4 linked regions of the Homo sapiens genome follow. The protein of the gene in region 4 purifies or fractionates together with the protein of the main gene of each other region. This does not show direct contact. Each region holds a gene or a part of one and is shown on either strand. Other genes may lie near its edges.

Region 1 (8,111 bases), on a different chromosome or scaffold from region 4:
CTAATAAGTAATTCCTTTCAGAGTTACTGGTGTAAGCTAAAAAAAGGAATAAAGGGAGATGGAAAAGAAGATTATAGGAGAAGAGAACCTAAGTTGGTGGGGGCCCATGATGGCAGGTAGAAGAAAGAAAAAGGTATATTTGGTTGAAATGTAGATATGTTTCAGGTGTCATTAGGGCCCTCTGAGCCTTCAAAATCAAAGGTTAATTAAAACCTATCTGATTGGGAAAATTAGGCGCAGAATGATATGGGTAAATATAATGATAGAACATTTAAAATATGGTTTCTGATTCATAAGCCACTAAGGTCACAACCTCTTGAGCCATGCTGACTTTTAGACAAATAAAGTATGTGAATTTGCCCTTATGTTAAATCATCTTAGTAAAATAAAATAAAATGAATTCTTGATTTTTGTTTTAGTGTCTTTGCAAGATATAACAATGAGGAAAGCTTTCCGAAGTTCTACAATTCAAGACCAGCAGCTTTTCGATCGCAAGACTTTGCCTATTCCATTACAGGAGACGTACGATGTTTGTGAACAGCCTCCACCTCTCAATATACTCACTCCTTATAGGTAGGTAGGTTAATAAATAGTAGCCCTATTATTTATCTCAGACTTCAGATTGAAATGCTAAATCCCCAAACATTCTTTATTTCATTGGGGTTCTAGCCAACACAGAGAGCCCTCTCTGTCCACCACCTTTGGAAAACCTTTGCTTTTATTCATTGGATGAATTCTTAAGATTGTGGCATACAAAAGACAAGACCTATTTAAAAGAGTTGTTTTTACAAGTTTAGAAAAGCCACTGGTAAACTTATTAATGTAAAGAGATAAGGAGTTATTATTGTCCTTTTAATTTAATTTTTAATCAAATGGAAAAAGCTCAAAATTCTGTCCTACTAACAAAATAAACATAATTTTTGCTTGTTTTGTCTACTCTTTTTTTTTTTTTTTTTTTTTTTTGAGGCGGAGTCTCACTTTGTCACCTAGGCTTACTGCAAGCTCTGCCTCCCAGGTTCATGTCATTTTCCTGCCTCAGCCTACCGAGTAGCTGGGACTACAGGCGCCTGCCACCAAGCCCGGCTAAATTTTTATATTTTTAGTAGAGATGGGGTTTCACTGTATTAGCCAGGATGGTCTCGATCTGACCTCGTGATCCACCCGCCTTGGCCTCTCAAAGTGCTGGGATTACAGGCGTGAGCCACTGCGCCCGGCCTGTTTCGTCTACTCTTGATTTGATTTGTATACATTAACTTCTTACATAATGAATAGGTAGTACCTTTATAAAATGCTTTTTACCACTTAGAATAAAATCTGGAATTATTTAGCCTTTCTTTGAAGTTCTTTCACATGGTTTGTTAAATGGGTAATGTACAACACAACCTGAATAAAATAGTATTCAGAGAGTTATTTGAAATTGTAAGTCAGTGTGCAGATAATTAGATATAAATGTGACTGTTAGAATGACTATTACATGATATCTTTTGGATTTAGTAAGATAATAAATAAATCATAGTATTGGCAGAAACTGCAAAATTTCTGTCTTCTAGATGATGTTACTGTCTTTTCAGGCTTTTATCTTTGGCAGAGCTATTTGTAATTATTGGAATTGCCCAAAGGACTTTTTAGAAAATTTGGGATTCAGCAGAAATTAGGGATGAAAATTGCCCAGCTATACTTTAAATTGTTAGTACTAACTTGGAAAAGCATCTGCTTTACCACTTTTCTTTGTTTCCTCATATTTGTGAGAAATTTTCTATTGGTGCAATATTCAGTTTTATTTTGGCACTATTTTAACATGCTGTATTTTATTAATGTAAGAGGATAAACATTTTAGTGAAATTATTTCTATTCTGATTGCCTAAGTCTTACTAATGTGTGTTTTAATTGATATTTTATATTTCAGAGATGATGGTAAAGAAGGTCTGAAGTTTTATACCAATCCTTCGTATTTCTTTGATCTATGGAAAGAAAAAATGTTGCAAGATACAGAGGATAAGAGGAAGGAAAAGAGGAAGCAGAAGGTATTACAAGAGATTAAAAAATTGAGGTTAATTTTTGTATATTTGTGTTTTGTTGCATATATTGAACTTCATTAATCTTGTATTTTGACAGTTTTATTTTATTGGGTCCATATAGTTAAATACTGAAGTCTTTATAACTCCACAGAAAGAACACAGTCTGATGGGGAGCAGATGAGCAATTAGATTATTAGAGTAGGGCATAATAAGTGCCATAGCAGAGGTATGCATAAAGGGTTTAGATAACACAAAATAGCATCTGCTTTAGCTAGCAGGCAGGGTAAACCCTTCCCACAAAGCTTATAATGAATCTTGAAGAACAGATAGGAGTTAGGTGTACCAAGGAAGAGAGGAACATTTTGGTAAGGAGCAATGGAATCTTGTACAGATATTGGTAACGTAGATTAAGCTAGTATTTTGTTGCTACAGAGCACATCCTAAACATTTCTCTCCTAAATGTTTTGGAGAGGTTATTATATTCACATGAAATTTCTGTTATTGTCATTTTCCACTTTCTAATAAAATTCACTTGTATCTGCTTTATATTTCATGTTAATGATAACTGAAAACACAGAAGGATGAAGCAAAGTTAGATTTAGGTTGAATTATGAAGGAGGCAAATTCTGTCTTTATCATCTCTCTGGTTCTCCTGTAGCTATCTCTGCTTTCCCTAATCCCTGTATAATGCCATTGTATTGTCTTCTTTGCTAGATGGTAACCCAGTGTTCTAGCTAACATTTGCAAATTGGTGACTGGCAAGCCAGATTATGCCTGTAGGGAGTGTTTTGTTTGCCAAACACAGAGGTTTTTAAATTTTGGAACTAGAGTGCCTGAGATGGACATGTCTGTCTAGCTCACCTCATGCCCCATCTTACACCCGACTGGCTTCATTCATGTATGTTATCCGCTTGGCCGCTTTGGGCGTTTGAATTTGTTACACTTACTCTAGCCCTTTCTGTACTTTCTCCCCCAGTTTTGAATCACTTTTTGTTTTATTGTTTAAAGACAATGTTTTCTGTTGAGTGATATAGTTATTATCGGTTAATTAGATAATTGGATTTTTTTCTAATGTGTTGGCTAGCTAATCAGTTACTTCCCAGATAACATAACCTTAGTAAATTGTTACGTTTTGATTAGGGGCAGACAATGCCATTCATCGTAGAAATTTCAAACTAATGCCTGTGGAGCAAGGGTTCATGAGTCTTTTTTCATCTGAAAGACTTTCTGACCTCAAATTGTATTCTTTAGGCATACTGTTTTGTGTCTGGTGCATCAGTTCAAATTAGGGGTTAAACAAAACATGGCAGGAAACTGGGATTACAGCAGACTGGCTAAGATTTAACTGAATGTACAAGTAAACCATTTCTGTGTTACTTTTACTATATTATGATGACATTGTCTTTTTCAGTGTTGATGTTAGAGTTTAATTTGATTGTTATAACCTCCTTTTTAAAAATTAGCGCTTAAGCATTTGACTTTGTTTCAATACATCTGTTATAGCAGAAAAATCTAGATCGTCCTCATGAACCAGAAAAAGTGCCAAGAGCACCTCATGACAGGCGGCGAGAATGGCAGAAGCTGGCCCAAGGTCCAGAGCTGGCTGAAGATGATGCTAATCTCTTACATAAGCATATTGAAGTTGCTAATGGCCCAGCCTCTCATTTTGAAACAAGGTTTCTTTACTTTTGTTTTTTTTTTTAAATGATAAAACATTGGCTTTATTTGTAGTATCTGTACTTCTAAGTCTTGAGTCCTAAACTGTTGAACAGGCAGACCCTGTTATAAATATAGAGATTATTTCAAAATCCTGACCACTGTGAGCCTACTAAAGTCAGGCCTTGAGCAGGTCATTTTCATACCTGGACCTTAGTTTTGTCATCTTAGAAAGAAGTGGTTGGAGTGGCTGATCTTTAGGGTTTTAGCTTTAGTGTGACGTCTCAATAGCCTCTCGATATTTCAGGCACAGTCTGCTAGAATTTTGTAATAAAAGTTTAGGGTCTGGGGTTTTTTTGAAATACTGTTGATTTATTGCATATAAAATAGGAGTGAAGAAGGGGTTCTGTTTTGTTCCTTTTACTTTCCCCTGACTTCCTTTCTTTGCCACATTGCCCACCTCAGATATATTAGGACTTTCAAACAAAAGTATTGATCCCTTTTGTAGAAAAGATTTTTTCCTTTCTTAGTGGCCAGGGGCCCTAACTAAATAACATACTACCAGCAAACACATTAAACTGGCATCTGTCTACGAAGACACTTATTTGGGTATAGTCATACGTTTGTTTGTTTGTTTTGAGACAGAATCTTGCTCTATCGCCCAGGGTGGAGTGCAGTGGTGTGCTCTCAGCTCACTGCAACCTCTGCCTCCTGGGTTCAAGCGATTCTCCCACCTCAGCCTCCCAAGTAGCTGGGATTACAGGCACACGCCACCACGCCCAGCTAATTTTTGTATTTTTAGTAGAGATGGGGTCTCACCATGTTGGCCGGGCTGATCTTGAACTCATGACCTCAAGTGATCTGCCTGTCTCAGCCTCCCAAAGTGCTGGGATTGCATGTGTGAGCCACTGTGCCCAGCCTAGTCATATGATTTTTTAATGGAAAAGAGCTTAAGGTTTTCTTTTAAGTAATATACATATAAATGATTGGGCCATAAGTGTGCAACATCTTGACCTATTTTAGGAGAAATATACATCTGAGAGATACTATTTATCTGTATTACTGAAAGAATTGACATTAAAAAATTAATAAACTTTAGACATTTATTTCTACTACAGTTGAGTAATTAAGGTACTTATCTGACTCACTAAATACAATAATTTCTGACTTGCTGTGTGCACATCTGTTAAATCCAACTTTTTCCCAAGAATGTACTAGCAAATATTTATAAATCTTAACATGTTCGAGTTATCTAAAATTTTGCTTACATCTAAGTCACATGTTGCTATGTTACTCAGCTATTTTCTGAGTACCCTTGCACCTTTGAAAACAGCAGAAGGACAGAAACAATATAGCTAGCCACCTCTGTGCTGCTAGTATCTGGGAGGCCTTTCTCTCTGGTGCAAGACTTTTAGAAGTCATTTAAGTTTAAGAGCACACCGAGATATACTAGTAGTAGAAAACTCATTTTCCTATTCTACCTTTCTGTCATTGGCATCTTCTTGTAAAGAACTAAATAGAGGCAGATAGCTTTCCACACAATTTGCTAAAAGTTAATTATTTTCTTGTTTATTAAATTACGTACGTAATGCTTTTCATCCTGTGAGTTGAATTAGTATTCTGTTATAAAATAATAAAATAACCGATGGTCATCATAGTAGATCTCTAAATCAACAAGTAAGGGTTATATTGTGAGCAGCATTCTTTGTTTTAAAAGCAGGATTAATATAATACATTTCTGAAAGTTTCTTAAAAATAGTTAAAATATTGGCATTGAAAGGATAAACTTTAAATATTTAATATCTCATGTAGAACCCTTTCCTCCCAATAATTCAAGAATAATTCACTGATACTATATATTTCTTTTAGACCTCAGACATACGTGGATCATATGGATGGATCTTACTCACTTTCTGCCTTGCCATTTAGTCAGATGAGTGAGCTTCTGACTAGAGCTGAGGAAAGGGTATTAGTCAGACCACATGAACCACCTCCACCTCCACCAATGCATGGAGCAGGAGATGCAAAACCGATACCCACCTGTATCAGGTATGTTGGAACAAGCATATGATGTTTTATCTTAGGAGTCAGTAAGCTTTTTCTTTCAAGGACGATATAGTAAGTATTTTTGGCTTTCGGGCCTTACAGTTTTTGTCACAAGTACTCAATTCTGCCATTGTTGCATGAAAGCCACCATAGAATATACATAAACAAATGAATGTGTCTGTGTTGAAATAAACTCTATTTATAAAAACAGGGAGCAGGTCAGATTTGGTCTGTGGGACATTATTTGTAATCTTCTGGTTAGAGCTGACACACTCTCCTAGGAAAATTTAGCTAATAAGAATTTAAAGATTAAAGCCTGTTTCATTTTATTATAGTGTTGTTATCAAGCATATCATGTGCAGTGTATTAAGAAAAATTAAGGATTTTTTGGAATGTGGGTAACAGTCTAAGAAATGGGAACCAAAGATGTGATTATTAATACTAATTTGGTATTAAGGAAAATACTTAAAGAATTTCAGAGAGGATTGGCAGTTGCTTATAATAATCTTTCAGTAAAGCTATTTTGAAGTTTAATCTTGTCAGTTATTATCCAAATGATAAATTTCTAATAGAGAAATATTAGGGAAATTTTCTAATAGAGATATAGAGATCAGCTTTACAATTTTCAGTTAAAAATCCAATTTTCTATCACTGACTCATTTGGTGTTCCATCCTCAGGAAAAGAGAGAGCTGTAAATTTCTTTTTGTGGTTTGTAATTAGCTGTCATTGATTTAACTGAAATAGCATATGATGAGACTTCATAGTTTCAGTATAAATATAGCATTGTATTGGCCACATGTATTGCCACAAAATTGCATTATGATCAATGTTGAGTCATTATAGAGACTCCTGTCAGTATAGAATTGAGCATTTTATTTATTAAAGTAAGCATAAAATATCTGAGTGGATGCCAAAGTTGCATGAGAGAATGAGACTATTTAGACTATTACAAACCAAAGCACCACTCATTAATTTTTTTATTGATGTGCTTTTAGTTCTTTTTTTTTTTCTAAATACTGTTGAAGATGTTAAATTTCTATAGGAGCATGTTATTGGATCCATTTTGATATAATTACTGATAGTCATTTATAGTTTGTGTGGTTAGATTTTCTCTTTAGGCTTTTCTCTTTTAATAACTTGCTAGAATCTCTTTGTCATTTCAGTTCTGCTACAGGTTTGATAGAAAATCGCCCTCAGTCACCAGCTACAGGCAGAACACCTGTGTTTGTGAGCCCCACTCCCCCACCTCCTCCACCACCTCTTCCATCTGCCTTGTCAACTTCCTCATTAAGAGCTTCAATGACTTCAACTCCTCCCCCTCCAGTACCTCCCCCACCTCCACCTCCAGCCACTGCTTTGCAAGCTCCAGCAGTACCACCACCTCCAGCTCCTCTTCAGATTGCCCCTGGAGTTCTTCACCCAGCTCCTCCTCCAATTGCACCTCCTCTAGTACAGCCCTCTCCACCAGTAGCTAGAGCTGCCCCAGTATGTGAGACTGTACCAGTTCATCCACTCCCACAAGGTGAAGTTCAGGGGCTGCCTCCACCCCCACCACCGCCTCCTCTGCCTCCACCTGGCATTCGACCATCATCACCTGTCACAGTTACAGCTCTTGCTCATCCTCCCTCTGGGCTACATCCAACTCCATCTACTGCCCCAGGTCCCCATGTTCCATTAATGCCTCCATCTCCTCCATCACAAGTTATACCTGCTTCTGAGCCAAAGCGCCATCCATCAACCCTACCTGTAATCAGTGATGCCAGGAGTGTGCTACTGGAAGCAATACGAAAAGGTAATTTTCTCAGCTCCATGAAAAGCATTGCTATAGTAGCATTGGAAACTTTCTAAATATTTAAGACAAAAATGTGTTCCTTATCTATAAAATTTTAGGTGATCATGTTTGTGTACAAATGGCCTTTAGAAAGTAAAGCTATATCCAACTTATATTTAAAATTATTTTCCAGAAAATATATCACATTTGACCATTTTATTTTCATGCTTTGTAGGTATCCTTAAAATGTTTATTGAGTGAATGAGAAATTTAATATATCAGACTTAAATGTTATAGAACATTTAATTAAAACCCTTTATATTATGCTTAATGTGTATATTAACTCCTTTAAAAATGGTATTTTCTTCAATGTTAAGGCTGTTCATTTTGGGTATCCATGACACTTGCTCTACCAGATGCCTTTAGAGGAGTGAGTTTCCTCCCTTAGTAACAAAGGAAAGACTTCTCATATTCATTCATTTATTGTCATTATTTCCTAAGCAATGACTATAGGCCAGGCACTGAGCATATAGAATGAATAATAGTGCCTTTCCCTCAAATACAATGGATAATGAAGCCACAGAAAATATATTCAACAATGTTTAATTTATTTGACCAT
Region 2 (8,111 bases), on a different chromosome or scaffold from region 4:
TGATTCAGAAGATGCTCCCGCAACCCACTTCTACCTTCACCTTCCCACAACCTTATATCGTCATCCAAGCACAACCACCAAGAACATGTCACTCTATTTCCATCTAGTCATTACTTTGCTATACATTGGGAGGTTTTATCATTTTTATCTCATTAATAAAACATGTTTAAAAAAATTAAAAAGAAAAGTAGTTCAATGTGGCCTTTAATAATAAAACAAAGCAAAAGTAGTAACCTGCCTGTACCATGTTATTCCATTCTGAATCCCCAAATAGGAAACACCATTCAACTTGTTAAGCGATTCCTTGTGGTATTTATCTCCCTAGTTCTAACAGGCTTATGAGACTATTTCTTGGTTTTTCAGTTTATGACATTTTCTATTGATTTTCTACTTTGGGAAATGAGGATATAGCTCTCTCCTTCCTACCTCCCATCCCTGCAACACACCTGGTTTCCTTCCCCCATCTTCCCATCGTGGTAATTTTACACTTTTTGGTAAAAATCAATGGTTACCTTATTATTATTATAACCAAGTAACTGTTGTCCATCACTGAGCCACACGCTCTAATGTGAATCCATTTATTTTCTTGCACAACTTTTTGTTCTTCATAGAATTAGCAATACTGTATTTTTTATTTTGTTTTCTATGAGTCTATCAAAAAGGCAACCCCAAACCTACCAACAAAATGTAAAACTCCTTACAAAATAGTCCATCACAGTCATCATTTGATGAGTTTTGGTATTATTCTTTTTTTCTTGGAGGCATTCCTCCACAAGCTCTCTTCTTTCCAATCTGCATGGGTTTGTCTCTAGACCAGCCCCGCCACTGATCCAAGATTCTCCTCATTATTTATTATCTTGGGAATTCCCTTTACCTCTGTCCTGTCCTGTATCCCATTCATATATCTTCCTCTGTGAAGTATTGAGATCTTTTGCCCATTTTTAAAAAATCGGGTTTCTGTCTTCCTATTATGGAATTGTGAGAATTCATTCCATATTTTAGATCACAAGTCTTCAGTCAAATATATGTCGCAAATATTTTTTCTCATCAGTGACTTTGCCTTTTCATTTTTTAAGGGTGCCTTTTGAAGAGCAGCTGTTTTTAATTTTGATGAAGTCCAATTTGTCAGTTATTTGGTGGTTAGTGATTTGGGGGTTTCAGCTAAGAAATCTTTGCCTTGTCTAGAGTTGTAAAGATTTTTCCTTTAGATCCAACAGGCCTGCCCACTCCTCTGTATTTGGAGCCATTCTGAGACATCTTCATTATTTACTCCTTCCTTTTTCCTAATGTCTCCTAGTTATATCTGTAGCCAGGGGCCCAGATTCTGTTATGATCTAACAGTCCTCTAATGCTTCTCTCCCATTATTTCTCTGCACTAAAGCTCATCACCAACAAAATTGTTGTACTGTTGGTGCCAATGAAAACCATCACCTCCTGAGTTGTTTTCATACCAGTTCTATCTAAAAATGTTCTTTTTCTTCCTTTAAGTTTTAGAGAAAAAAACAGCCTTAGGGTCTGAGCTCATTCATTCATTTATTTGTTCCTTTTCAACAGAAAATGTGTCTGCCCACCATGGACCCAGACACTGGCAGTTGGGCGTGCACAGCATAGCTGGGCCCTGTCCTGTGTATTTCCAGTCTGGTGTAGAAGGTGGAACATGCCATTATGGGTGTGATCTGTGTGGCAGTTGTGAGGTGGACGATCTGCCACATGCCTTTCCCTCTGAATTCTGAATCAATTGAGAAATTAATATTAGAGGCCAATGGAGTCAAAGGCTCAGACTTACTGCTGGTAAAGCTAGACTAGAGAATGTGGTTTTCACCCAAGGCCACACCAGTGTTCCTATGCCTCCTACATCTCATTAAACTTGCCACTAGGTAATAGGCAAAGCAGCTGCATAGATACACGCCTCCCTTCCTCGGGATGGGCAGGGGATGGTTACTGCAAGAAGCAGCCAGAAACCTAGAAGGGAGGCCACATACTTGCAGGCAGGCAGGTCCCAAAAGAGCGAGCCAAGGTCAGGCCAGGCTCCTCTCATCACACGTGCCTGAATCCCCATCTCTCCAAACAGATAAGTGAGTTAGGGTAAGGAGAAGGGAAATAGGGGAGTAGAGGCATTCTCCCCCATGACTTCTGCAGGAGAAGTTTTGATTTTATAAACTCAAGCAGCAACTGGCCAAACGGTTTCAAAAACAAAGGTTGTAAAAATTCTTTAGAAAATTTTATGTTAAAAAAGTTCTATTTGATGTTGTCTGTGAGTGCCTGGTCTATGGAGAGGCCTTCAAAAGCCAAGGCACTTCTCAAAATGCTCAAATTGTGGCCCATGGGCCAGCTGCTATTTGTCAGCAGTGAACAACAAAATTGGGAGCTCATGCGAGGATGAAAATCAGTTGCATTGCGAAGAATGCTGTTAGTTGAGCTGACATTTGTGTTTTGTAGCAAGACTTTCTCAATGAATGAAGCCAAGTGCTGATATACGTACATTCTGGCACACATCTCTTACCTAGCCATGCGCTGGCACTTTGAGTAGCACTGGCCTCATGCCTCTGGACATCTCACTCCCCGCCTCCCCTGGCAGGGCGGTGATGGGTAGTAGACAGCTGGTGTGCTGGACATGGTGAACATGACCCTTGGCCTCTTCCTGCCCAGGTGATCGCCATGATCAAAGGCCTGCAGGTGCTCATGGGCAGGATGGAGAGCGTCTTCAACCAGGCCATCAGGAACACCATCTACGCGGCATTGCAGGACTTCGCCCAGGTGACGCTGCGTGAGCCCCTGCGGCAGGCGGTACGGAAGAAGAAGAATGTCCTCATCAGGTGGGTTTTCAGATGCCTTCAGGAGCATATCAGACATAAGCATGCCAGGTACCCATCAGAGAGGATGTCCTGGCTCAGCCACTGAACACACATGGGTCCTTCCAGCAAGCTCCAGAGGGCTCTTTAGGAGATTGGGCATTTGGGATGAATTAAGCCTTCATCTCTAGAAGTCCATATCCACTGCTATCTAGCTGTGTGAACTTGGTCAGGTTGCTGACCTTCTCCAAACCTCAGTTTTCCTCATTTGTAAAATGGGGATTATAATGCTACCTGCTGCCTGTTGGGATGATGAAATGAGATGGTCCATATATAGACCTAAGCACATGCAGCATGGAGTAAGTATGCAGCACATCTAAGCTATTATGAAAACTAAGCACACACAGATTTCATAAGACCGGTGAGACTCCCCTATAACCAGAAAGGAAATACAGACCTCTTGCCTCACACAAGTTCTGTCTCACTCGATGGGCTCAGAGCTGAGTTCTCAGACATCCCTTGGACATCAGAACCATGTAGGACACTTGTTTAAACACAGATTCCTGGACTGTACCTTAAATCTGTTAAACCAGAGTTTTGGAATTGGGGCAGAAATGAGCATGCTTTACAAGCACCCCAAGAATTCAAATGTGGGTGTTCCTGGGACACCACGGGCCCTAGAAACACAAGCTTGTAGTGACGTTTTCCCATGGTGAAACCTGGTCTAAGTCTTAGTTCTTCCTTCCCCAGCGTCCTACAGGCAATTCGAAAGACCATCTGTGACTGGGAGGGAGGGCGAGAGCCCCCTAATGACCCATGCTTGAGAGGGGAGAAGGACCCCAAAGGTGGATTTGATATCAAGGTGCCCCGGCGTGCTGTGGGGCCATCCAGCACACAGGTAAGCGGCTCCAGGCACAGGCCAGCTGCGTTGACTCAGAGGCCAGCCGGGCTATGGTAGATCATCATGGCTGGCCATGGGCAGTGGGACTGGGAGCCGTCGGTCAGGAGGGGCAGGGTTGAGTGGCTGCTCCGGTCTTATTCTGCCATCTTGTTTTGATATAGGAAGGAGGACCACTGGCTTAAGATTCAGGAGACCTGGATTCTAGTCCTAGATACCTGTGTGACCTCGGGCACTTTACAGATCTCTCTGTGCCTCAGTTGTTTAAACTGGCTAATGGGGATAATACCACCACATCCACCTTGCCTGGCTATCTTCTAGTCCTATGAAGTATAGATTCCAAAGTGGAGGAGGAGGTTAAAGTGGAATCTATCTGCATGCATCTATGCTGCCCCTCTTTAATAAGTCCTGGCCCTTTCCCCTAAAAGTTCTGCCTCTGACTTGCTGTGTGATCTTGGGCAAGCACCTTGAGCTTTCTGAGCTCTGATTATCTTCTCTGTAAAATGAAAACTTTGGATGAGATTGTGTTACTAACAAAATATTCCTTAGTTCCACATCCTTCCAAAAGTGCAAGTATTGAAAGCCCTTGTCCCCTTAGAGGAAGTCTAGTATTTGGAAACACTCAGAGTTGCCAGCCAGAGCTTCTGCACAAGAGGTCGCCCGTGGCTTATCCAGAGCAGTCATAACGTTACAGAAAAAAAAGTCAATAATCTGGGCATCTTCGTTAAATCCCTGCTACCTACTTAAGGATAGGTAGTTTCTGGTAATATTTTTGATGTACTGGAAAAAGCAGATGGTTCTCATTGCAAGTTTAAGGGTCTCACAGGCCTCACTTCCCATGACCTTTAAGCCTCTCTCTGTTCTCAGTCACCCAAGATGGACCATCTGAGGCCCACCCCCGACCCTTCTCCCTGTGTGTGCGTCTGTGTCTGTGCTGGGGGCTGGGGCAGGGGAGAGGTGGGTTCTCGGCAGGGTCATCTTAACTCCCCTTGGCTTCACAGCCCTCTGCTAGTTTGCACCAATCTCACCGGCTGGTTGTAGAACGCCCCAAGGAAGCGTCTGCAAACAGTTCTGTGTAATATCAAGGGTTGAGGTCCGGGAGACACTGAGCAGGGCTTTCAAGTGTTTCTGTAAATTTTAAGACATGAGTGAGCAAGAGACAGACAAGGCACAAAAGACACTGGAAAGGAGGAGGAGGGGACTTAACAGGCAGAGAGAAAAGGAGAGGAGAGGAAGGAGTATTTGTGTAGATAATGTGAGAGGGGTGGGTCACCAGCAGTAAATCCCGCCTCACCCCCAACCTCTACCAGGTCATGCTAGGTGGCACAGACATGTTGAATAGACTCGTAGACAACCAGAGCTGGGAGCGCTATTAGAGAAACCTAGGCCCTCCCCCTCTCTTGCGGATGGGGAAACTGAGGTCTAGAGAGGGGAAGTGACTTGTCCAAGTCACAAGGTGAGTCCCAGGTGGAGGTGGGACAAGAACCCAGGTCTCCTGACACCCACCCAGGGCTCTGGTACGGTCTTCAGGACACAGTAGACATGGGCATCTTGCATAGTTGGGATAGAGACTGTTTTGGTGAATTAAATGCTCTGTTAAGTAAAAGTACGTGGGAAAAAAGTTCACCTTCTTATGGGTGAAACCAGTTTTCAGAGAATTAGAGTTGGATATCAACTGGACAGCACCCACAACAGATTAGACTTGGATTCTTCCTTTGAGGACTTGAGAGGCCGTCATGAGAAGAGTGCTTCTCGGCTCCTAGGGATGGTGAGACAGGCCCTCCAACAGGGCTGCAGATGGGGGACTGTCTGAGGCACTGACGGCCACTGTGGCTGCTTTCCCACAAAGGAAGCCCTGTGGCAGGGATGGTGGGTCACACGTTTCTGTGGCTGCTCTACCCGCATCAGTGCCAGGCATGTGATGGGGGAGATCCCAGGGAAGCTCCAGAGGCAGCGAAGACGAACGCGGTTGCTGGGAGGTTGGAGTGTCTCAGAGGTGGCCCCCGGCAGTCGCGGCGGCTTTCCCACCGTATACAATACCTCTTGCTTTTCTCTCTCTCTCTCTCTTTCTCTCTCTCCCTCTTCCCTGTCTCTCCTGCCCTCCCATTCCCTCTTCCTTCTCTCCTATCTATGTCTTAGGCCTGCCAGTGGTCCCCGAGGGCTTTGTTTCACCCCACTGGTGGCACACAGGGCCGAAGAGGCTGCCGATCCCTGGTATCACACCGCCTGGCTGGGTTGGTTTGGGTACCCTTCTCGAGGAGGCAGCAGGAATGGACTAGCCTGGCTCCTCAAGGCCCCTTCCAGCCCTAAGATTCACAGACAAATGATGTGGAGAGATCTAGATTAGCAAAGAGAACCACCCCACCGCACTTGCATCCTTTGCACTTAAGGCACCCTGTAAGCGGGAGTTAATTGTCTAGTAGCCTCCTGTGTAAGTACCAATGTTAACCCGCCTTCCACCCTGAACTTCAGCAGGCTGTGCAGTGCAGCTGATGCCACCAAGGGGGCGCCATCGCTCAGCCATGGGGTCAAAACGCTGAGGGTCAGGAACAGGTGTGGGAGGGGGTTCGTTCTGATCTTATCCCATTTCTCAGTTCCTCAGAATGTTAGTGCTGAAAGGGACTGGTGTGAGAAGGCATCTGGTCCAACCCCCTCATGTTACATGAGACAACTGAGGCCCAGAGTGGGGGCTTTGTTGCCTAAGGTCACACAGCAAATCAGCAGCAGTGCCTGGCCTTGAACCCCGGTCTTTTGACTCCCAGTCCAGTGCTCCACCCATGGCATCTGTGGCCCTCTGGGAAAGCAGGGAGTGACTCCAGGGTGACACGTAATGAGGTTCTCCTCTGATATACACGCCCTTGGCCAAGCAGAGCAGGGAGCTACCTGGTGTGGCCAGGTCCACTGGCCCAGGGATGCCACGGGGCCCGGGTTGGCCATGAAGGTTTTCACAGTTCCACATTTATTTCTCAAACCTTAAACTGGTGCTTCCTTAGGACAGTGCTTTTTAAGAGCAGACATCTGCAGAAAAAAAAAAATACATAAATACAACATGAAGCAACCTTTTTCCCCGGGGTAGAGGGCCAGCTTCTGACCTTCTCATCTTGCTTTCTTTTTCAAGCTGTACATGGTGCGGACCATGCTTGAATCACTCATTGCAGACAAAAGCGGCTCCAAGAAGACCCTGAGGAGCAGCCTGGATGGACCCATTGTCCTCGCCATAGAGGACTTTCACAAACAGTCCTTCTTCTTCACACATCTGCTCAACATCAGTGGTGAGCTGCATCCCATCCCTGCTAAGGCATGGGAGGAGGGGATGAGGGCTCTCAGAGCCGCTAAGACCACCAAGCCAGGCATTGCAAAGGGACGTGACCGTTGACCCTAAGGGGCACATATCACCACCAAGGAAAAAACACATACACTTTCCAGTGGGCTTTTGGAGCTAGGAAAGGCCAGGTTCAACTCAGCTGTTCTGACTTAGCTAAATTTGTCCAGGAGATACTTGTGGCTAATTTGTCATAAAGTCCTTAGTAGAGCGGGATCAAAAACAAGAATACGTACATACAGACACACGGATGCTAGACTTTTGCTACTCAGCCGCAACCAAGCGCTAATTAGTACTTGCTGCTGCCAGCAGGGGAGGCTCTCGAGCTGCATCCCAGTCCTGTGTTCTTCACACTTCCTCTCCTTTTAGTAAGATGTATGTCCAGAGCAGAGGAAGAGTAGTATCTCAGGAACATGAGTCTTCATATGTCTGCTGGCATTGACAAGAGTGATTGTAACAAACAGTACAAACTTCTCCATTAGAGAGTAGCCCGGGAAGGGCCTTCAAGGTCTCTAAACTGTATGGGATCTGGCAATTATCACACGCGAGGAGTCAAGGAGCCACAATCCAGTTGAAAGTGGGCACTCGGGGGCCTGTCTTGACACTGTGTTTGTATAATGAACACACTTTTTTTTTTTTTTTTGAGACGGAGTCTTGCTCTGTTGCCCAGGTTGGAGTGCAGTGGCACTATCTCAGCTCACCGCAACCTCCGCTTCCCAGGTTCAGGCTGGAGTGCAGTCGTGTGATCTCAGCTCACCGCAACCTCTGCCACCCAGGTTCAAAGAATCCTTCTGCTTCAGCCTCCCGAGTAGCTGGGATTACAGACATGCACCACTGTGCCCGGCTAATTATTTATTTTTTTAATTTATTATTATTATTATTTTTTGGTATTTTTAGTAGAGACGGGGTTTCGCCATGTTGGCCAGGCTGGGCTCAAACTCCTGACCTCAAGTGATCTGCCTGCCTCAGCCTCCCAAAGTGCTGGTATTATAGGCATGAGCCTCTGCGCCCGGCCACGAGCGTACTTTTCATGCTTAGGTTGCAGGTTTTGTAGGAGAGTGATGGCTTTGTAGGAGAGGGATGGGAACTATAGGGGCAT
Region 3 (8,111 bases), on a different chromosome or scaffold from region 4:
TGTCCTCACTGGAAAACTTACAGAGAATCACTTCCAATCTCTCCCCTGAGCTTCCAACCACCCTGGGCAGATAATTTTTTTTTTTTTTTTGAGATGGAGTCTCACTCTGTTGCCCCGGCTGGAGTGCAGTGACGCAATCTTGGCTCACTGCAACCTCTGCCTCTTGGGTTCAAGCAATTCTCTTGCTTCAGCCTCCCTAGTAGCTGGGATTACAGGCACCTGCCACCACGCCCGGCTAATTTTTGTATTTTTAGTAGAGATGGGGTTTCGCCATGTTGGCCAGGCTGGTCTCGAACTCCTGACCTCAGGTGATCCACCCGCCTCGGCCTCCCAAAGTGCTAGGCATGAGCCACCACACCCAACTCCTGGCAGAGCATTTCTAATAAGACCCAGAGAGGACAGGGATTTGTATACAGTCACATGGCAAGTTTGTGGCAGAGCTGAGCCTTCCTCATCATCAAGATCAATTATCGCCTGACCAACACGGAGAAACCCTGTCTCTACTAAAAATACAAAATTAGCCAGGCGTGGTGGCACATGCCTGTAATCCCAGCTACTTGGGAGGCTGAGGCAGGAGAATTGCTTAAACCCGAGAGGTGGAGGTTGCGGTGAGCCGAGATCACACCGTGCATTACACTCCAGCCTAGGCAACAAGAGCAAAACTCCATCTCAAAAAAAAAAAAAAAAACAAAAAAAAAACAAAAACGCCAGGCGCAGTGGCTCACGCCTGTAATCCCAGCACTTTGAGAGGCTGAAGTGGGCAGATCACCTGAGGTGGGGAGTTCCAAACCAGCCTGACCAACATGGAGAAACTCCGTCTCTACTAAAAATACAAAATTAGCTGGACATGGTGGCGCATGCCTGTAATCCCAGCTACTTGAGAGGCTGAGAAAGAAGAATCACTTGAACCCAGGAGGCAGAAATTGTGATGAGCCAAGATCATGCCATTGCACTCCAGCCTGGGCAACACTCCAGCCTGAGCAACAAGAGTAAAACTCCGTCTCAAAAAAAGAAAAAAAAAATCAATTACCATTATTGTTTCACTTATGAGTATTTACCGTGTGCCAGGCACTGTGCCAAGCACCTTACCTGCATTATCTCACATGATCCTCACTCCAACTCTTTGAGGGAAGTACTACCATTGGCTTCATTTTATAGATGAAGAAACTGAGGTTCAGAGAGGTTACATTAAATCTAGCACCTACCCTGTACCAGGTGCTGGAGGAACAGTGGCAAGCAAGACAAAGCCTCTGGATTCGGGGAGCTTATGTCTGGTGGGGGAGGCTGACAAACATGTAAACACAGAAAACTATATATATATATTTTTTTTGAGATGGAGTTTTGCTCTTGTTGCCCAGGCTGGAGTGTAATGGCATGATCTCGACTCACTGCAACCTCCGTTTCCCAGGTTTAAGCAATTCTCCTGCCTCAGCCTCACAGATAGCTGGGATTACAGGCATGTGCCACCATGCCTGGCTAATTTTTGTATTTTTAGTAGAGATGGGTTTTCGCCATGTTGGCCAGGCTGGTCTCGAACTCCTGACCTCAAGTGATCCGCCTGCCTTGGCCTCCCAAAGTGCTGGGATTACAGGTGTGAGTCTCTGTGCCTAGCCAGAAAACTCTTAAGAGGTATGTATCAGGCTGGGTGCAGTGGCTCACTGGTGAAAAGATCTGCACCCAAATAGCATGTGACGGGCAGGATTTGGACCCAGGTCTGTGTATGCCAGAGCCCAGTGTTTATCCCTCTGCTCTCTCACCTTCCAAAAAATGGTAATAAACCATGGTAAGCTAGCTTTTCCCTTTGGGGACGAGATCCTTGGTTTGTCCTACCCAGGTATGTAGGCAGTGGTCGGGGGTTGGGGGTGGCTGAGCTGTCCTGAGCTCTAAACCGCTGTTTTTTTTTTTTTTTTTTTGAGACAGGGTCTTACTCTGTTGCCCAGGCTGGAGTGCAGTGGCTAGTCACAGGTGCAATCATAACAGACTGCAGCTTTGAACTGCTGGGGCCAAGTGATCCTCCTGCCTCAGCCTCCCAAGTTCCCAAGTAGCTTGGACTACAGGTGCACACCGCCATGCCTGGCTAAACCACCTCATTTCTCCTTTCAGGATCAAGCACCCCAACATTGTAGCCCTGGATGACATCTATGAGAGTGGGGGCCACCTCTACCTCATCATGCAGCTGTGAGTGGCCCAACCTCTGCCCTGCCCCCACACCTCTCCCAGCTGTCCCAACCCTCTTTGCCAGACTGCCCTATCCCCTGCTGCAGGGTGTCGGGTGGGGAGCTCTTTGACCGTATTGTGGAAAAAGGCTTCTACACGGAGCGGGACGCCAGCCGCCTCATCTTCCAGGTGCTGGATGCTGTGAAATACCTGCATGACCTGGGCATTGTACACCGGGATCTCAAGGTGGGGCTCAAGGGGGTGTGGTGAGCTAGGGTACCCAGGGGTGGGGCCTTTGCAAACCCCAAACTGTCTGACCTTGGGCAACTTTCACCCCCTCACTGAGCCTTGGATTTCCATCTACAAAGTGGATCTTGTAACCTTTAAACTGCCTCCTCCCATTCTAGTCCAGATACTCAAAGGAACACGAGTGAATTGTGTGGCATTTTATCCAAACAACATTTTGTCTTTTTCTGATTAAAAAAAAAAAAATCTGGCCAGACAGGATGGCTCACGCCTGTAATCCCAGCACTTTAGGAGGCAGAGACGGGTGGATCACCTGAGGTCAGTTCGAGACCAGCTTGGCAAAACCCTGTCTCTACCAAAAATACAAAAATTAGCCCGGCGTGGTGGCAGATGCCTGTAATCCCAGCTACTAGGGAGGCTGAGGCAGGCGAATCACTTGGACCCGGGAGGCAGAGGTTGCAGCAAGCTGAGATTGTGCCATTGCACGCCAGCCTGGGCGACAGAGCGAGCCTGGACGACAGAGCGAGACTCCATGTCAAAAAAAATAAAATAAAAACAAAAAATCCTATTCCCCTTCTGTAGAAAACTTGGATGGGACAGCAAAACATAAAGAAAAAAGCCAGAAATCCCCGAAATCCTACTCCTCGGAAATAGCGACGGGGCTCACATTTAGCAGTACATCTCAATCCGTTCTAGGAGAAGGGCACTTGGGGTGTGACATGCCTGGTTTTGAATTCTGGCTCTGCTACTGCCTAACTGTGGGTTCTTGGGTGAGTCACTTTGCCTCCAAAGGCATCAGTTTCCTCATCTGTTAGGTGAGATTATACAGACTGGCCTAGCAGGGAAGCAGTGAGGATGGCATTAAATCAAGCACTAATCCAGGGTCTGGCATAAAATAGGCATTCAAACATTCCTTTAGGGCTTTACAGTGCACACCTGAGGTTTAGAGACAGTTCCCCCCCACACCCTCTTGAGCCTTGTCCTTCCTGGAATTTTTGGCCTTCTTGAGAGCTTCCTTGATTTTCTTATGACAGCCATGAAGCCACAGTGGCTTTTGGGGATCCATTATTTCTCAGAAGGTGCTTGGAGCGGCAGAAGGTTCTACCAGCCTCTAACCATCTCTGATTGCCCCTTCTCTTCCCTCCTGCCCTTCAAGCCAGAGAATCTGCTGTACTACAGCCTGGATGAAGACTCCAAAATCATGATCTCCGACTTTGGCCTCTCCAAGATGGAGGACCCGGGCAGTGTGCTCTCCACCGCCTGTGGAACTCCGGGATACGTGGGTGCGGAGGGCCCTGGGCTGGGGCTGTGATGGTGGGGGGAACCAGGAGTTGAAGGGCAGAGATTTGTCACCACCACGTCCTCTTCCCTCCACAGCCCCTGAAGTCCTGGCCCAGAAGCCCTACAGCAAGGCTGTGGATTGCTGGTCCATAGGTGTCATCGCCTACATCTTGTAAGTGGGGCTTGGCCATGGTAGGCTGTGGCTCCAGAGTTGTCCTCTCGCCTACTTTCCTCTCTTCCTTCCTCTGCTCTCCCTCTGCCCTCCCTTCCTTCCCTCCCTCCCTTCCTTCCACCAATCAATTACCAGTATTACTTCATTCAATAGATACTATGTTTCAAGCACTGTGCCAAGCAAGCACTGGGGTAAATTTAGCACAGCACAAACCAGACAAAGTGCCTGCCCTCAGGGAGCTGACTTTCTTTCTAGTAGGGAAGACAGACAATCAACAAGTAAATAAATCTACAAACTGACGTCAGGTGATAAAAATAAATACTGTGGAGAAAAACCAAGCAGGAATAGGGAGACGGGGTGATGCCATTTCAGTAGGGAGGTCAGGGAAGGGCTCGCTGTGGAGGTGATGACCGAGTGGTGAGGGAGCCAGACATTGGAGGTGTGGGGAAAGAGTGGCATAGGCAGAAGCAATGGCAAGTGCAAAGGCCCTGAGGAGGGCAAGATGGCGGCACATACAAGGAACAGAAAGGATAATGTAGCTAGAACAGGAGTGAGCAGGCAGGGCTGGTAGAGTTTATAAAGGGGGAACTCCTTCCATGGCTCCTGCCTGACCCCTGAGACTGCCCCAGTGCTCCACCCCGGAGCCAACGGCACCCGAAAGTGGAAATGAGGATGAGTTTCTCCCTGCCCAGGCTCTGCGGTTACCCTCCCTTCTATGACGAGAATGATGCCAAACTCTTTGAACAGATTTTGAAGGCCGAGTACGAGTTTGACTCTCCTTACTGGGACGACATCTCTGACTCTGGTATTTGGGGCTTTGCTTTTTTCCCCTGGGCCCTGCCTCTGGTTCCTCCCTCACCTGCTTTGGGGGCGGTCTCCCTCCTGCCTTCCTTCTGTCGGATTTTCCAGCACCACACAAAGAGCTGTCTTCGAGACCAGACACCCTACCCCTTCTTCCTTCTGCTTGGGTACTTCCTTCTGCTTGGCTCCCAGAGTGAGAAACTAGGCATTCATTTGTTCAATCTTCAAACATAGTCTATTTGAAAATACCTCTCCCCTATTGACACCCTAATGTCTAAAACACCACCATAAACATTTTCATCCTCCTTTTGTGCCCCCTATTAAGAAGCAAACCTGTGAAGCTACTATCGTTTATCATCAGTGTGAATGCACTGAGATTAGTCAAGAACAACTTTTTTTTTTTTTTCTTTCTTTTTTGAGACGCAGTCTCGCTCTGTTGCCCAGGCTGGAGTGCAGTGGCACAATCTCGGCTCACTGCAACCTCTGTCTCCCGGGTTCGAGCAATTCTCTGCCTCAGCCTCCCAAGTAGCTGGGATTACAGGCGCCCACCACCATGCCCGGCTAATTTTTTTTGTATTTTTAGTAGAAACAAGGTTTCACCATCTTGGCCAGGCTGGTCTTGAACTCCTGACCTCGTGATCCACCTGCATTGGCCTCCCAAAGTGCTGGGATTACAGACATGAGCCACTGTGCCCGGCCATATGTTTTTCTTAAGAGAGAAAGGAAAGAGCTGGAAGGCACGGGGTGGGAGGGCCTGAAGAAGAGCATAGGTTGGGTGGGGTGGGGCATGGACTGATTTGGCCTCTTTGTCTTGATGCCAGGCCAGACCTGAGGGAGTGGGTATGCTCTTGGGGAGTACACAGGCAGTACCATGCTGTCATTATCTTTGCTTTTGTCTTGGGGGTTTAGCCAAAGATTTCATCCGGCACTTGATGGAGAAGGACCCAGAGAAAAGATTCACCTGTGAGCAGGCCTTGCAGCACCCATGGTGAGAATTCACACAACCTGTGAGCTGGGGCGGGATTTGGGGCCCTCAGGTCTGCTTCTGCCCTCATAGGCAACCCACCACATAACCCCATCCTAGGATTGCAGGAGATACAGCTCTAGATAAGAATATCCACCAGTCGGTGAGTGAGCAGATCAAGAAGAACTTTGCCAAGAGCAAGTGGAAGGTGAGTCCATATCCCTAGTTCTGGTCCCAGCCTCCCCAGGACTCCTCCCCATCCCTACCCAGGCTCAGCTTGCACAGCACCTGGCATCACACTGGGCACACAGTAACTGCTTAGGGATCCTTACTGAAGGACTTCATTCATTCACTCTTTCATTCAACAAACACTCCCAACACCTTCTCTATTCCAGAGAGGGTCCCTCACCTCCAAGTCTAGAGGAAGAAGTCTGTAATTCTTCAGGAGGCATCTGATCCAGCCTATGGGGTCCGAGAAAGGTCATAAAAGTGGTGATGACCTGACAGAGCTGTCAGTTAAGTAGGAATTAGTGAGGCATAGCGGAATAATGTCTATAGCCATTCCGGGAAGTGCAAGTGCTAAGCCTGGCCAGACTGGAGGGGCTGAGGGGACTGAGAGGCAGGAGCCCAATTTAGAGAAGCAGGTAAGGGGCCAGGCCTCTTAGGGCCTCATATGCCACAGAGGAGCACCAACTTGATCCTGAGGGCACTGAGGAGCCCCAGAAGAATCTTAGGCAAGTATTTGCTGCATAGAAAGGGCTCTCAGGGCCAGGCATGGTGGCTCACGCCTGTAATCCCAGCACTTTGGGAGGCCGAGGTGGTTGGATCACCTGAGGTCAGGAGTTCAAGACCATCCTGGCCAACATGGCAAAACCCTGTCTCTACTAAAAATAAAAGAATTAGCCACACATGGTGGTGCGTGCCTGTAATCCCAGCTACTTGGGAAGCTGAGGCAGGAGAATTACTTGAACCTCGGAGATGGGGGTTGCAGTGAGCTGAGATCGCGCCACTGCACTCCAGCCTGGGCAACAAAGTGAGACTCCACCTCAAAAAAAAAAGAAAGAGCTCTCAGGATGCAGAGAATGGCATGGAGTAAAGACTGGGTGACGCATTAGGAGGCTGTGGCAGAGATACAGGCAGGAGATGGTAAGGGTTTGGAACCACAGTAGCAGCAACAGGGGGCAGAGAACAGTGGTTGATCCAGGAGTCATTTAGGAGGTGAAACTGACAAGACATGACGATGCAATGGATGTTGGGGGAAAGAGATGTCAAGGGCTGGCCCAAGACTGTGGCTGGGAACAGAATGGATGGTGGTGGTACCATGACTGAGATGGTTATCACAGGGACAGAAACATGTTTTGGGGGGATGGTTTTAGTTTTAGACATGGTGAATTTGAGGGGTGTGTGGGACACCTAGGTGGAGATATTGAATAGAGACACACCTGAGCAAGTTACTTCAGCTTTCTGTGCCTCAGTTTCCTCCTTTGAAAATGATAATAGTACCTACCTCAAAGACTTTCATGAAGATTAAATGAATTACTACGTAAAGTGCTTAGAACAGTGCCTGACATACAGTGCTATAGTGTTTGCTATTACATATTAATATGAATTATAGTTATGTTTCTATTTATATATATAGATACACATACATCTAACATATGTGCGTGTGTGTGTGTAAATATATAATAAAGCCTTGTAGAGGTTTTTGGGGGGCTTTAGGGGAATTAATAAAATAACTCCTGAATGAAAATAACAGAACAATTGCAAGAATCCCACTGCGCCCCTGCCCCATGACTTGACTCTCTCAAAAGTCCTTTCTCCCCTCTCCCTTCAATGCCTTCAATGCCAGCAAGCCTTCAATGCCACGGCTGTGGTGCGGCACATGAGGAAACTGCAGCTGGGCACCAGCCAGGAGGGGCAGGGGCAGACGGCGAGCCATGGGGAGCTGCTGACACCAGTGGCTGGGGGTGAGGAGCGGGCTCTGCAGAAGGGCATGGGTGGTCCACAAAGGTGCACCCGGGCTGGAGTGGAGGGCCTGCCCCTGCGGCCACCTCTGTTCTGTCTTCCCATGCAGGGCCGGCAGCTGGCTGTTGCTGTCGAGACTGCTGCGTGGAGCCGGGCACAGAACTGTCCCCCACACTGCCCCACCAGCTCTAGGGCCCTGGACCTCGGGTCATGATCCTCTGCGTGGGAGGGCTTGGGGGCAGCCTGCTCCCCTTCCCTCCCTGAACCGGGAGTTTCTCTGCCCTGTCCCCTCCTCACCTGCTTCCCTACCACTCCTCACTGCATTTTCCATACAAATGTTTCTATTTTATTGTTCCTTCTTGTAATAAAGGGAAGATAAAACCATCCTTAGCGCTGTCTCCCTCAATATCCCCCACCCCATCTTGTTGTGCAAACTGACTGCTTGATTTGGGGGTGCCTGGCCTTTGAGGTAGTCACAGGGAGGCCCCTCCCCAACATGAGACTGGGTGGGGATGGGGAGAGAGA
Region 4 (7,806 bases):
ATCCTGGCTCACTGTAGCGCCTGCCTCCTGGGTTCAAGTGACTCTCCTGCCTCAGCCTTCTGAGTAACTGGAATTACAAGCGCCTGCCACCGTGCCCTGCTAATTTTTGTATTTTTAGTAGAGATGCAGTTTCACAACATTGGCCAGACTGGTCTCAAACTCCCAACCTCCAGTGATACTCCTGCCCTGGCCTCCCAGAGTGCTGGGATTATAGGCCTGAGAAACCACGCCTGGCCCCAAACAAATTGCTTTAAGACGAGGTCTCCCTATGTTTCCCCACTGCACTTGAACTCCTGGGCTCAAGCCATCCTCCTGCTGTGGCTCCTGAGTAGCTGGGACTACAGACTCAAGCCACCACGCCTGGCCACATTCCACAATTTAGAGAAAGTGCACAACCTGGAATCCTAGGGAGACCCCGATTCACCTCAAAACTGCCACTAAGGAGGTAAAACGCTGCCCCTCTGAGGCAGGCTTCAGTTTCCCTGTGTGTGAAATTGACCTGGCGCTGGGAGAGGCTGGTGGAGGCGCGGATTTTGCAGTTTCCCTACAACATTCTGGAAGCCTGTGGTTCTGGGAAAGGTTGGCGTGGAGAAGACTGGGAAACAACCAGTGGTCACCAGAGCTGTAGCACCTCCTCCACCTCCGAGCTCTGGGGCTGGGAACCCCAGGCTTCGGGGCCCCTGTGGAGGACGCAGGTGGCCCCCTCTTTCCTGACATCTCAGGAGAGGGAGGGGCAACCGGCTAGCAGAAGAAAAGCACAGGAAGGTTATACAGCCAGGTGGGGAAGGGGCCAAATCCCTGAACAACCCCTTCCCAGAGTTCCTCTTCAAGTGCAGGGTACCCAAGAGTCAAGGCCCCGCCCCCTTTCCAGAGGCCCCTTTTCTACCCAGGTGATGGGTCCTAGCTGGGATGGGAGGCAGATGGACGGAGGGGAGGGGGGAGGAGGGGAAGGGAGAGGCAGTGGATGAAGGAGGATGGAAGAGATGACATCCCCCTCGGCCCATTCATCCCATTCAGGTCCCCAAGCCGCGCCCCTCTCCGCCCCACCTGCACTGCCAGTGCCAACATCAGAGGGAGGAAGAGGGAGCTCGGCTTAGAAGGCTGAGGCCCTGCCACCTGGGCCACACCGATCACGTGGCCTTCCTTCTCCCCACAGAAGGCCAGACCATGGACACCTCCTGAGCTGGAGGTCATCCTGCATCTCCACCCTGTTTTCTTTTTCTTTCTTTCTTTCTTTTTTTTTTTTTTTTTGAGATGGAGTCTCGCTCTGTCGTGGAGGCTGGAGTGCAGTGGCGCGATCTCTGCTCACTGCAAGCTCCCCCTCCTAGGTTCACTCCATTCTCCTGCCTCAGCCTTCCAAGTAGCTTGGACTACAGGGGCCCGCGACCAAGCCCAGATAAGTTTTTGTATTTTTAGTAGAGACGGGGTTTCACCGTGTTAGCCAGGAAGGTCTCGATCCCCTGACCACATGATCCGCCCGCCTGGGCCTCCCAAAGTGGTGGGATTACAGGAGCGCAGCACCACGCCCAGCTAATTTTGGTATTAACAGTAGAGATGTTGTTTCACAGTGTTGGCCAGGCTGCTTTTGAACTCCTGACCTCAAGTCAAACACCCGCCTCAGCCTCCCAAAGTGCTGGGACCACAGGTGTGAGCCATAGTGCCTGACCTGTAGTTGTTGAATATTTATTATTAATCTACAAGTTGGGTGTGATGCAAGTCCCATACATGGAGTCCCCCAAACTTCTAGAGCAAGGGCTTCCCCATAATCCTGGCAGGCAGGCCTCCCCTGGGGTTCCCAACTTCTGACCTCACTGAAGTGTTTATCCTCTTCTCTAATCCCAGCCTCCTTTTCCCTGTTTCCATGTCCTCTGAGAGATGCTCCCGCTCCCCCAGGCTCCCTCTGCATCCCCCTCATTTGCTTCCTCCCCAGTGTGTCAATGGAGTCCTAACCCCCACCCTTGACATTGTCCCCTTTTCCTCCTCCAGAGTGGGACCTTATTTTCCCCCAAGTGGTCCTGTCTAGGGGTGCCGCTGCCGGGCCCCCTCTGGTCTTCCTGCTGGAGACTGGGGCCTTTTGGGAGTCAGCAGGCACCCGGGCCAACCGCAGCCAGCGAGGGGTGAGCGATACTTCACCGGCGAGTCATCAGGGTGAGCTGGCCGTGTGCGATGCAGTCAGTGTCTGGGTGACAGACCCCCGGACCGCTGTGGACTTGGTTGTGCTCGAGGTGGAGGTGTTGGGTGAGGTGCCTGCAGCTGGCAGCAGTTCCCTCCACCAACACTTCTTTGTCACCTGCTTCAAGGCCGATAACTCTGAAGAAGGTGGCCCAGGGGTAGGTGGAGGGGCTGCCGCTGGGGTGTGGACCGGGGGGCACTGGGTGTCTGAGTGCAAGGCCAAGCAGTCCTATGTGCGGGCATTGACCGCTGATGCCCAGGGCCGTGTGGACTGGCGATGGATTCAAACTGGCACAGCCTGTGTCTGCACACTCCTCAGCCGGACTGGCCGGGCCTGAGACTTATACCCAGGAACTGGTCAGGCAGAAAAAGAACAGAGCTGGATGCTGAGAGACCTCAGGGTTGGCCCAGCTGCTCTACGGACGGACCCCAGTTGGGGAACTCATCAAATCATCGCAAAATCACAACTCTCTGAATTTGAGCTCAATCTCTGTAGGATGGGTGCAACAACGTGGGGTTTTGAAGGTTGAATAGGAGCTCTCCCAGGGGAACTTGAGGGTAATCATGATGATGATGATAATAATAATAGCCACTATTTACTGAGTGTTTACTCTTTCGTAGCCCTAATACATAACTCCTCGGATCAACTCTCATGGATTTGATCATTGGTGACCTTTGGTGTTAAGTTGCTGACTGCTCAGTCACAGAGGACACCACCTTGCTCATCCTGGGGAGTGGGAGGGCACATTTCACGATGTGCATGGGGGAGGAGGGAAACTGGAACATGCAAGCAGATGGCCAGGGGACCTTGAGGACATGGTCTACAGAAGGCCTTTAAGTATCTGGGAGCTGGGGTTCAAATGAGAAATCTTACTTGGTGAGAGTGGGCAGGGGTCGGCTTAGAATATTTTGTTTTGAGATAAAGAGCTACCGATCACACGGGGAGTATAAGCAAGGTTCAATGAGAAGTGATCAGGATGCTGGAGAGTTCAGCCCTGGGCGGGGAGCTCAAGTCAGGTTTCTAGCCCTCTTCCCTGTGCCAACCTATACCCTACACTGGGAAAGAAACAGACCTTAAAATTGTCCAGCTTGATGGCATCGCGGGGAAGGGACTAAGTCCAGATAATGTCCTCTGAGGCTGAGGCCTCGGGGGCAGGACACACCTCCTGCGGGCCTATTCAATAATCAGTTAAATCACCTGAAGCACACGCATTTCCGGGGACCGCTCCGGGCATCCTGGCTTGAGGGTAGAGTGGGCAGAGGTCCCTAAGGGAGAGGTGGGGCTCGGGCTGAATCCCTCGTTGGCGGCACCAGGGTCAAGTGGCTAACCTGGCAGCACAGTCACGGGGAGGCCCTCTCTCATTGGGCAGAAACTAAGTCCGAAGCCGCGCCCCTCCTGGGCGAGGAGGTTCCACCTCCTAGGTTCCTGTGATTCTCCTGCCTCAGCCCGAGTAGTGGGACATCCCACTTGCTCCCGCCATTCTGTTTACCACAGGTGACGACCGCCATGGCTGACAGGCAGGGAGGTCCCCCGAGGACCGAGCAAGCCTCGGTCTCCCAAAAAAAAAAAAGATACATTGAAGTAATTTAAAAACACTTAGGAAGATGTCATTTCTTCCTATCAAGGCGTCCTCCCTTTATGTTTTGTTATTATATAGGGAACGATAAAAAAATTTTTTTCTCAACCAATGTGGACCCGGTTGGCCTCGAACTCGTACCCTCGAACCCTCCCCTCCCTGAGGGCCCGAGGGCACGCGCAACCGGTCGGAGCCACAATAGCTCGGGGTGTCGGGGATCTCCTTTCTTCCTTTTGACCTTACGCAGGGTGATGGAGCCAATCAGGAGAGGCTCACCCCTGACGTCACCCAGTCCCCAGGGCCAGTGAGGGCCCTGCGTTCCGTGGCGCCCCCTGGAGGGAGGAAGGGGAACTGTATCTGAGAGAGAGCAGCCAATTGGGTCCGCTGACTCCGGCCGGGTTCCCGTGCCGCGTCCAACACCCCTCACTCCCTGTCTCACTCCCCCACGGAGACTCAATTTACTTTCCATGTCCACATCCCCAGTGCTTGCGGAAGATATCCCGCTAAGAGAGAGACATGTCAAAGGTAGGGTAGATCGACATTTCCAGGCACCAAAGATGGAGATGTTCCAGGAAAGACTGCAGGGCCCCTGGGCACCTTCCACCTGCTTCCAGGCCATCACTGGCATGAGAAGGGGCAGACCAGTGTGAGCTGTGGAAGGAGGCCTCTTTCTGGAGGAGCGTGACCCCCAGTAAGCTTCAGGTGGGGCAGTTCCTGAGGGTGGGGATCTAAAATGTTGGGGTATCTGAGATCCTCTGGGCTGTGGGGTGGGCTCTGAAAGGCAGGTGTCCGGGTGGTGGGTCCTGAATAGGAGATGCCACGAAGGGTCTCTGGGTCTTTGTGGGTGGTGTACCACGCGGGATGGGAAGGCCAGGACTCGGGGCTGCGGTCTCAGACCCGGGTGAAGCAGTGTCCTTGTCCCAGGGGCTGCTGCTGTTGCTGCTGCTGAGCATGGGCGGGACATGGGCATCCAAGGAGCCGCTTCGGCCACGGTGCCGCCCCATCAATGCCACCCTGGCTGTGGAGAAGGAGGGCTGCCCCGTGTGCATCACCGTCAACACCACCATCTGTGCCGGCTACTGCCCCACCATGGTGAGCTGCCCGGGGCCGGGGCAGGTGCTGCCACCTCAGGGCCAGACCCACAGAGGCAGCGGGGGAGGAAGGGTGGTCTGCCTCTCTGGTCAGGGGCTGCGGAATGGGGTGTGGGAGGGCAGGAACAGAGGGCTTCCTGGACCCCTGAGTCTGAGACCTGTGGGGGCAGCTGGGGAGCTCAGCTGAGGCGCTGGCCCCAGGCACATGCTCATTCTCCCACTCACACGGCTTCCAGACCCGCGTGCTGCAGGGGGTCCTGCCGGCCCTGCCTCAGGTGGTGTGCAACTACCGCGATGTGCGCTTCGAGTCCATCCGGCTCCCTGGCTGCCCGCGCGGCGTGAACCCCGTGGTCTCCTACGCCGTGGCTCTCAGCTGTCAATGTGCACTCTGCCGCCGCAGCACCACTGACTGCGGGGGTCCCAAGGACCACCCCTTGACCTGTGATGACCCCCGCTTCCAGGCCTCCTCTTCCTCAAAGGCCCCTCCCCCCAGCCTTCCAAGCCCATCCCGACTCCCGGGGCCCTCAGACACCCCGATCCTCCCACAATAAAGGCTTCTCAATCCGCACTCTGGCGGTGTCTTTCTGTGGGCTCAGGGCAACCACACACACAGGGTGGGTCCAGCTTCCAAACCATTTTATACAGAGTCACAGTACAGAACTCTGGTAGAAAACAGGGTGGACGGCTGGGCGTGGTGGCTCACGCCTGTAATCCCACCACTTTGGGAGGCCGAGGCAGGCGGATCATGAGGTCAGGAGATCGAGACCATCCTGGCTAACACGGTGAAACCCCGTCTCTACTAAAAATACGAAAAGTTATCCGGGCTTGGTGGCGGGCGCTTGCAGGAGAATGCAGTGAACCTGGGAGCGGGAGGTTGCAGTGAGCAGAGATCGCGCCACTGCACTCCAGCCTGCACGACAGAGCGAGACTCCATCTCAAAAAAAAAAAAAAAAGAAAGAAAGAAAGAAAAAGAAAAGAGGGTGGAGATGGGGGATGACATCCAGCTCAGGAGGTGTCCATGGTCTGGCCTTCCGTGGGGAGAAGGAAGGCCACACGATTGGTGTGGCCCAGGGGGCAGGGCCTCAGCATTCTAAGCCGAGCTCCCTCTTCCACCCTCTGAGGTTGGCACTGGCAGTCCAGGTGGGGGCTTGGGGACCTGAATGGGATGAATGGGCCAAGGGGGATGTCATCTCTTCCATTCTCCTTCATCCACTGCCTCTCCCTTCCCCTCCTCCCCCCCCTCCCACCCCCGGTCCATCTACCTCCCATCCCAGCCAGGAGCCGTCACCTAAGTAGAAAAGGGGCCTCTGGAAAGGGGGCGGGGCCTTGACTCTTGGGTACCCTGCGCTTGAAGAGGAACTCTGGGAAGGGGTTGTTCAGGGATTTGGCCCCTTCCCCACCTGGCTGTATAACCTTCCTGTTCTTTTCTTCCCCTAGCCGGTTGCCCCTCCCTGTCCTGAGATGTCAGGAAAGAGGGGGCCACCTGCGTCCTCCACAGTGGCCTCCGAAGCCTGGGGTTCCCAGCCCCAGAGCTCAGAGGTGAAGGAGGTGCTACAGCTCTGGTGACCACTGGTTGTTTCCCAGTCTTCTCCATGCCACCCTTTCCCAAAACAACAAAACAAACAAACAAAATTGGGCCTGGCGCAGTGGTTCATGCCTGTAATCCCAGCACTTTGGGAAGCCGAGACGGGCGGATCACAAAGTCAGGAGATCAAGACTATCCTGGCTAACATGGGGAAACTCCGTCTCTACTAAAAAATACAACAAATTAGCCAGGCGTCCTGGTGGGCGCCTGTAGTCCCAGCTACTTGGGAGGCCGAGGCAGGAGAATGGCAGGAACCCGGGAGGCGGATCTTGCAGTGAGCCGAGATCGCGCCACTGCAGTCCAGTCTCAACAACAGAGCGAGACTCCGTCTCAAAAAAAAAAAAAAAATTGATTGGAACATCCTCCAAGATGCAAGACTCTCAGTTCCTCAGAGTTCTACAGGAAGGATGGCAGAGTGCAGTTGCCCAGAGTTGAAGTCCCATCTCTGCCATTTGTTGGCTGTGTGACCAGGCACAAATCATTAATTTCTCTGAGCCTGTATTTTACCATCTGTTGCTATTGAGTAATAGTAGTGGACTATTTTCTATTTTTATTTTTATTTTATTTATTTTATTTTTTTTTGAGACGGAGTCTCGCCCTGTCACCCAGGCTGGAGTGCAGTGGCGTGATCTCGGCTCACTGCACCTATGCTTCCCGGGTTCAAGCGATTCTCCTGCCTCAGCTTCCTGAGTAGCTGGAACTACAGGCGCGCACCACCACACCCAGCTAATTTTTTTTTTTTTTTTTAGTAGAGACAGGGTTTCACCATGTTGGCCAGGCTGGTCTCGAAGTCCTGAACTCAGGTGATGCACCTGCCTCGGCCTCCCAAAGTGCTGGGATTGCAGGCATGAGCCACTGCGCCTGGACGAACGTTTTTAATTATATTATTATTATTATTATTATTATTATTATTACTAATTTTTGAGATGGAGCTTTGTTTTTGTTGCCCAGGCTGAAGTGCAATGGCGGGATCTTGGCTCACTGCAACCTCCGCCTCCTAGGATCAAGAGATTCTCCTGCCTAAGCCTCCCAAGTACCTGGGAGTATAGGCATGCACCACCACGCCCGACGATATTTTGTAATTTTAGTAGAGATGGGGTTTCTCCATGTTGGTCATGTTGGTCTGGAACCCCTCACCTCAGCTGATCCACCCACCGCAGCCTCCGACAATTACAGGCGTGAGCCACCACGCCCAGCCGTCCACCCTGTTTTCTACCAGAGTTCTGTACTGTGACTCTGTATAAAATAGTTTGGAAGCTGGACCCACCCTGTGTGTGTGATTGCCCTGAGCCCACAGAAAGACACCTCCAGAGTGCGGATTGAGAAGCCTTTATTGTGGGAGGATCGGGGTGTCCTAGGGCCCCGGGAGACGGGATGGACT

What was found.
Region 1: the proteins of CGB2 (region 4) and WASF1 purify together in Homo sapiens (affinity purification with mass spectrometry; 2 studies listed by BioGRID and IntAct, with this or other methods). This does not show direct contact.
Region 2: the proteins of CGB2 (region 4) and CYFIP2 purify together in Homo sapiens (affinity purification with mass spectrometry; 2 studies listed by BioGRID and IntAct, with this or other methods). This does not show direct contact.
Region 3: the proteins of CGB2 (region 4) and CAMK1 purify together in Homo sapiens (affinity purification with mass spectrometry; 2 studies listed by BioGRID and IntAct, with this or other methods). This does not show direct contact.

Annotation. Positions count from the first base shown.
Region 1 is NC_000006.12:110,100,990-110,109,100, reverse strand, and holds part of WASF1 (actin-binding protein WASF1), read left to right. Parts: intron 1-419; coding exon 420-573; intron 574-1,906; coding exon 1,907-2,024; intron 2,025-3,521; coding exon 3,522-3,694; intron 3,695-5,543; coding exon 5,544-5,723; intron 5,724-6,884; coding exon 6,885-7,513; intron 7,514-8,111.
Region 2 is NC_000005.10:157,317,113-157,325,223, forward strand, and holds part of CYFIP2 (cytoplasmic FMR1-interacting protein 2), read left to right. Parts: intron 1-2,649; coding exon 2,650-2,816; intron 2,817-3,542; coding exon 3,543-3,690; intron 3,691-5,829; coding exon of another isoform or gene 5,830-5,904; intron 5,905-6,808; coding exon 6,809-6,962; intron 6,963-8,111. UniProt on the Homo sapiens protein: Involved in T-cell adhesion and p53/TP53-dependent induction of apoptosis. Does not bind RNA. As component of the WAVE1 complex, required for BDNF-NTRK2 endocytic trafficking and signaling from early endosomes.
Region 3 is NC_000003.12:9,757,206-9,765,316, reverse strand, and holds the end of CAMK1 (calcium/calmodulin-dependent protein kinase type 1), read left to right. Parts: intron 1-2,103; coding exon 2,104-2,178; intron 2,179-2,264; coding exon 2,265-2,403; intron 2,404-3,559; coding exon 3,560-3,686; intron 3,687-3,780; coding exon 3,781-3,856; intron 3,857-4,548; coding exon 4,549-4,661; intron 4,662-5,566; coding exon 5,567-5,645; intron 5,646-5,741; coding exon 5,742-5,829; intron 5,830-6,030; coding exon of another isoform or gene 6,031-6,130; intron 6,131-7,470; coding exon 7,471-7,588; coding exon of another isoform or gene 7,589-7,695; coding exon 7,696-7,778; coding exon of another isoform or gene 7,779-7,800; 3' UTR 7,801-7,970; downstream 7,971-8,111. UniProt on the Homo sapiens protein: Calcium/calmodulin-dependent protein kinase that operates in the calcium-triggered CaMKK-CaMK1 signaling cascade and, upon calcium influx, regulates transcription activators activity, cell cycle, hormone production, cell differentiation, actin filament organization and neurite outgrowth.
Region 4 is NC_000019.10:49,027,831-49,035,636, forward strand, and holds CGB2 (choriogonadotropin subunit beta variant 2 isoform 1 precursor), read left to right. Parts: upstream 1-4,059; 5' UTR 4,060-4,265; coding exon 4,266-4,274; exon of another isoform or gene 4,275-4,440; intron 4,441-4,673; coding exon 4,674-4,841; intron 4,842-5,076; coding exon 5,077-5,391; 3' UTR 5,392-5,408; downstream 5,409-7,806. Other genes in the region: CGB1 (choriogonadotropin subunit beta variant 1 isoform 1 precursor), read right to left, coding at 7,780-7,806.